Homo sapiens: one gene and its partner. The gene in region 2 interacts genetically with the main gene of each other region. Each region holds a gene or a part of one and is shown on either strand. Other genes may lie near its edges. The genes, in order: EGFR and NUS1.

What was found.
Region 1: changes in NUS1 (region 2) and EGFR together harm fitness more than expected from each alone (negative genetic interaction), as found in Homo sapiens cells (one large-scale study listed by BioGRID).

The regions. Positions count from the first base shown.
Region 1 is NC_000007.14:55,022,017-55,025,516, reverse strand, and holds part of EGFR (epidermal growth factor receptor isoform a precursor), read right to left. Parts: intron 1-3,500. UniProt on the Homo sapiens protein: Receptor tyrosine kinase binding ligands of the EGF family and activating several signaling cascades to convert extracellular cues into appropriate cellular responses.
Region 2 is NC_000006.12:117,706,199-117,709,106, reverse strand, and holds part of NUS1 (dehydrodolichyl diphosphate synthase complex subunit NUS1), read right to left. Parts: intron 2,183-2,908; coding exon 2,092-2,182; 3' UTR 1-2,091. UniProt on the Homo sapiens protein: With DHDDS, forms the dehydrodolichyl diphosphate synthase (DDS) complex, an essential component of the dolichol monophosphate (Dol-P) biosynthetic machinery.

The DNA of each region.
Region 1 (3,500 bases), on a different chromosome or scaffold from region 2:
GACCCTCCTGCCCTTCCTCTTCTCCTCCCTTCCCTTCCCTTCCCTGCAGTCCCATTGACTTCCCAGCCTTTGTGATTGCATTCAGTATCTATCCAGGCTTCCAAGTGAGAAGCCTGGGTGTCAATCTGGGATTCTTTCTTTCTTATGCTGCTACATATACTTATCAACCAGTTCTGCCTCCTGATCAGCCCCGGAGTCCCCTGTCCTGAATCTTCCTTGCTCCTGCTTCATCCTCTGTCTCTGGCAATAGTCATGAACCTTCCTGTTTCCAATGCCACTCCTGCAGTCCATTCCCCAAACCGCTGCTGCAGCCATCTTTCTAAAACACCAAACACAGCATGTCAGTTCACAGTCACTTCTCTTTCACACAGGACAAAATCCAAAGCCACAGTGAGGATGGAGCTCTCTGTGAACTGTAGGTAGCCTTACCATTTATTCCTTCTCTTCCTGCCATTTGAATTACTAGCACTCTCAAGAACTTTGCTGCTATTGGCACTGCTTGTGTAATGCCCTGCACATCCTATTCTCTGGGGAAATAATCATATAACCAAATAGCTCAAATGAGTAATCCCTTCCATTTGTGGCTAAACGTGCTCTCCTCCCCATGTAGAATTAAAGGCAAAGACTGAACTCAAAAGTCATCCTTTGTCCTGGGAAGAGTTCCGTCATTGATTCTGTGACATTGTTTCACACTTATTATCTCTAGCTCTCTTTCCCCAGTTGACTTCCAGACACTTAAGGGCAATTACCAAGTCTAATTTATTCTTACATCTCAACATATGGATGCAACAGTGTAAATCACTCATCATGGCTCAAACATAAAGAAAAAAAAGCCTAAGTTGTAACAGGTACCAATACTTGCCCTTCTATGCAAAGGGCAAACAATCATGGTTGACTTACGTAATTATTTAAACTAAGTCAGGGCCATGTGTGCTGCCGCGCTAGTAATGGTGTAATTGCAGGTGTACTTAGGGCTGCCTGCAAGGCATTCTCATTGGGTGCCTTGTCCCCTAAATTATAACTTGAGTCTTTTGTTAATGAGAAGTTCCAGATATATTCAGAAAGGACACTTGGACTCCGAGTCTCTCCTTGAAAACCCACCAGAATGAGATAAAACTTGGATCAGAGAGAGAAATTCTACTCCCCCATGTTAGTGTTTCCATACTGCTTGCTAAAGCAAGCTGCTGAAACTGGTAGGAGTAAAATTTACTCTAAGCATATGCAATTCACAGATGCTCAGTCCACAGGACCAGTCATTTGATACTGAACTTCAGGGCCTTCAGGGATTGAAATGTCAAATCTAGCACTTACTTTCTAGGGGCTCAGTAAACACACCCCCAATATTCCTGGCCCCAACTACCCCTCCTGCTCCCAGCTGGCTCAGGGAACTTTCTAGACAACTGGATTGAGTGTATCTATCTAAATGTGTAGCAAGAAAGCTTTATCAGATGACTCTGAAAAAGTGAAAATTACAGGCAAACTAGTTATTTGAATAAGTTCCAATGCCTGGATTCTTGCCCAAATTCAAACTGGCCAGCTTGTGCCTATGGGCCCAATGGAGGACAATCTAGAGATGTCGTCCAAAGAGCCAACTGCTGGAATTTTCTTAGAAAATTCATTCCTGTAGGAGGAAAACGAAAAAGAACGAATGAGAAAACACTATGATGTTTAATGGGGATGGCCTACAGGAACAAGTTAAGATTTACACTCTATTCTCTATGGATTAGTGGTTCAAGAATAAACCAGTAATAATTAACTGAGACTAACAATGTTTATTACCATAATTTCAAATGTCCATAAGTGATAAAGGAAAACAAAAATGGAATGGATCTGAGGAACAGAATCTGTTTTTTTTTTTTTTTTTTTGAGATGGAGTCTCACACTGTCGCGCGGGCTGGAGTGCAATGGTGCGATCTTGGCTCACTGCAACCTCTGCCTCCTGGGTTCAAGCAATTCTCCTGCCTCAGCCTCCTGAGTAGCTGGGATTACAGGCACCTGCCACCACGCCCAGCTAATTTTTTTTGTATTTTTAGTAGAGACTGGGTTTCACCGTGTTGGTCAGCCTGGTCTCAAACTCCTGGCTTCATGATTCGCCTGCCTCGGCCTCCCAACGTTTTGGGATTATAGAGGTGAGCCACCATGCCCGGCCCAGAATCTGGTTTTAAAAATTATATTTACAGGGAAGCAACATGTGGGTGAACCATATTCTAAAACTTTGAAATTTTCTCAACACATACCCCTATTAGTAAAACCCAATGTTAAATAAGCTCATAACTAGAGTACTTATGAAGTCAAAATTAAAACACGCACACACAGACACACAGGCACACACACAAGTCACATGGCAAGGGCCACACTGTGTTGCAGGTGGGTTCTGCAACAGGCGAAATGTCCTCAACATTGTGACCCATCCCTATTCCGGGGCACCAGCCTGGGGTTACCTTCCCTTCAGTGCCCATAATCATCAATTGCCTTTAATATTAGAGTTGGTTTGTCACTCTCGTCAAAAAAGTTTCAGATGCTAGCTGCTAGTCTTAGAGCTTAGATCAAAGAAAAAACAAAGAATATTTTCTTTTCAAACAGGGAGGAATCCTTCATCTTTGCTGAGACTACTTCTAAAAACATTTCAGAACATGTTAGTGCTGTCACGTGGACCAAGTGTAATTATGCAGCACAATGGACTTTCGGCAATCGGTGTCTTCAAACCAGAAGTTTTTGAAAAATCATGAGTTATGAAACTAAATACGTGAAGCCAGAAATTACTGTTAAAAGCCTATTGGAGCTCTCAGCCAGTTTCTTGTATTCTGTGCTACGGCAGTGTGGGTCTAACACACAAACCACTGGTGTCCTTTCCAGATTTGAAAGCAATCTGGAAGCAAGAGCAGAAACCCTTAAAACTCACCCCCCCTTCAACCTTTAGCCCAGAATATCTAGCATATTCTATGCACTCAGTAAATATTCACTGAATTCAGAAACAACAGCTCAGAAGCCTGAAGGGTCAAAGTGACTTGTCCACCTTCACCCTGGGCTGGAGTGAGAAGAAAGGTCCCAATTGCCAGGCCGGGCTTGGGCTTTCTTGATCTGACCTCCTTTGAGGAGGGAGGGTGGGGTAGATCTCACTTTGGATACCATTAATATCCCCACTTTGGTTTCTCTTTAAGACAGCTCGGACCTACTGAATGGGAACGTCTCCAGAAGTGGGGCTGGGCGGGCTTATTTCCACAAAGCTCCCTCAGTTGGGAATTCGACTCGCCTTGGAATACTTTCCAGTGTCCCTTCTGGAGAGCACCTTCATCCTGTAAGAGGCAGGGCTTTGCTCAGCACCCCTCAAGCAGTCTCCACTCCATGCTCACTGAACTGAGGACTAAGCTGCCTCTATGGAAGGTGACCCAACAGAGGGCTGAGGAACTCGGCAGGAATGCAGACTGCCGGACAGCCCGCGTTGAAGCTTCAGACAGGCTCATCGTCATGAGCCGGCTCCCTGGGCCCTTTCCCCTTGC
Region 2 (2,908 bases):
GTTCTGGAATGACTACATCTGAAATCAGAATCCTAGTAGTTTGTAGTTTGCCTCTTCCTAGAACTTCAAGAGACTCAAATCATAGGCTACAGATGTACTTTCAAGTATATACTTATGAATGGAAGGAGAAAATAAAAGCACGAAAATGCAAATATTAAACCTTTACTGGCTTGGGCTATATTCCAGTAGGTAATTTATTTGACTAACTTAACTTTAACAACGATTAAATCCCTTCATTTTAATCAGGTCCATTAAATTTCATTCATTAAAGCTATACATACTCCAGAATGTTTATAAGACATTTATACCTATCATGTTTACAAAAGGCATAAATTCAGTCTTCAGCTGCACTACAAATGCCTCAATATAATATAATCACAGTATAAGGAATCAGAAATTCTCTGGTTAGATATGCTGTAGCTTCACACAAAACTCTCAGTAATAAATTAAAACAAAAAAAAAAAGTCGTACAACGTATAATGGATTATGCAGTGCAAAGTAATGTCACTGGACCAAAATTTAGTTTAATCATTTTTATTTCAAGTGTATTTAAAAAATCATAAATGGGGTTTCATAATCCAAAGTTGAAACATTTATTCTTCATAGCTTCAGAATTTAACAACCAATTGTAGACCATGCTTTCCAAATCCAGTCTTCTTTGCTATTTTTCAAAACTTCTGAGATCTAGTATTAAACTGCTCCATTCTAAATGTATAGTTTTAGATAAGTATTGTACACTTGTTGATAAGGGTTTTCTGAAAGCAGTCTATCAAATATAAAGAATGGTTTCTATCTAAGAATCAGCAGTGAGGGAAGAAATATTAAACACCTATCAAGAAATCAATTATTCATTTTAAAAATAACAGAACCAGTGCTGCTCTCTGTCATAAAAGAGAACATGTAAAATTTATTTTTATAGACTTTGGTAATATTTTATTCCCCCACAGAGGCCTTCAATCCTACTTAAAGATATTTTACACACAGTAACCATCAGGATTTACTGAGTAAAAATCTCAGGTATTAACCATGCCCCTAAAATGTGCTATTCCAAAGAGGAACAGGTTACTTTTGAGGAAAAAAGCTGCCTTGGTAACTTCCCTCAAATGTTTATTTTAAATAAAAATGGTTGATGGAAATATTTTTTAAAAGAACTTTGGGTATAATATGGCATACTGCCCATCAAACAAAAAAGGAAATAAAACTTTCTTTCCATTTATAATAAGTTTTCCACCTTTACTATCAAGATTACAACTTATTGACCTTTTATGCTTGCTTGGTTTTTTTGACTGCCTAATCCAATGTTTAAATTTTTAAGTCTGCATTTCAATGTAGTAGGAGTTATTTTTCAAATAATCTTCAGAACCCAGAATACAGAGCAACTCTCAGAATACCAGAGCAACACTCTCAAGTCATACTTTTGAACCCAGAATACCAGAATACCAGACTTCAGAACCCAGAATACCAGAGCAACACTCTCAAGTCATACTTTTGACTACAATTAAGAGATGAAAATGGACGGATATCTGAAGATAGGTATTCCCTCTGCTCTGAAGGTGAGCAAGATTTTAACATGTGAGCAACACAGAACTCCACTCCTCTGGAGCTCCTTTCAACTCAGAATGCTTCAGTTCAGTAAGTCAATATATTATTCTTAAAAATTAAAGTTTGGTCACTAAGAAGGACTGAACAAAAATTATTCCCCTCCCGCCAAACACAACCAGAACAGTTCTAATCAGGCCCTCTTCTCCCCACAAAAATAGGGAAGTAGCTGGGCTGAAGACTTTAAGTGTGACATTTCAGTTCCTAAAACATCACTGCTATTTGCTCAAAGTTGTAGGTCTATGTATTTCCTTCTCCAATACGTCCCCATTTATAAGTTTATTTCCATACATACAAACGTGCACATGTGTGCACGTGCACACGCACACACACACACTCACTCTCAAGTAAGACACTTTTTTGTGTTTGTTGATAAATTATGAGGATTATGAACTAGGTGTGTACAGGGTTTCATAGGTGCTTTGTAAACATCAGAGTCACTTGGTTCCTTTCCTCCACAAGCCTCAAATCAAATTATGCAACCAATGACCACTACTTTCCCAGACGCTGTTCACAGGCTGCATATTGACGAAGGGCAGAGAAAAAGTCCTCATAACTGATGTTTAGGTGGGAAGGCAAAGAGCTGAAAAGAAAACACGGGGGGAGAAAAGCAATTAGATATACACTGTAATGTAGGGGGGAACCAGAAGATAAGGACCAAAAAGAAGTTAAGAATAGAATACACCAAATTATCCTCCACCAGACAGCACCATGACAGGCACGGAAAATGTCTTAATCATAATATGTAGACTGAAAGGGTGGGGCCCTGACAGAACTGACTGGGAAATAGCAGAGAGCCTCTGAGGCACCGAGGGGTAGTGGCACTCACTGTTTATTGACGAGTGTTCATTGAAGATAGCTATTCCCTCTGCTCTGAGGGTAAATTATAAGCAGAATATGCCAAACAATTCTACTAAGATTGTTCAGCTCATTGTGGACAATGAGATGACAAGGACACACAATGTCATCATCAACTAAAAAATTAATATGCCTCTTTTTCCACAAGAAAAGCAACTAGTAATGAGAGATTCATAACTTGTTAAAGCGTAAGCTCAGATTAATGCAAAGCTAGAGATCTATGTATAAAGGATCTCATTTAAATCCATTAAAGAATTTCTCCTTGGTCAGAGTAAAGCCAATATTACTTAGTTTAGGAAAGCCATGCTTAATGTTGGGCAGAGCCACACAGCATCCAAACATGATGAAATATTGTAGCCATGTTGTGAGCAACCTAGAAATCAACACTTACCTCCACCATTTCCAATTACTCAAGGGCAATTACAGTGTGAAAATAAGCACTTTAAAGATA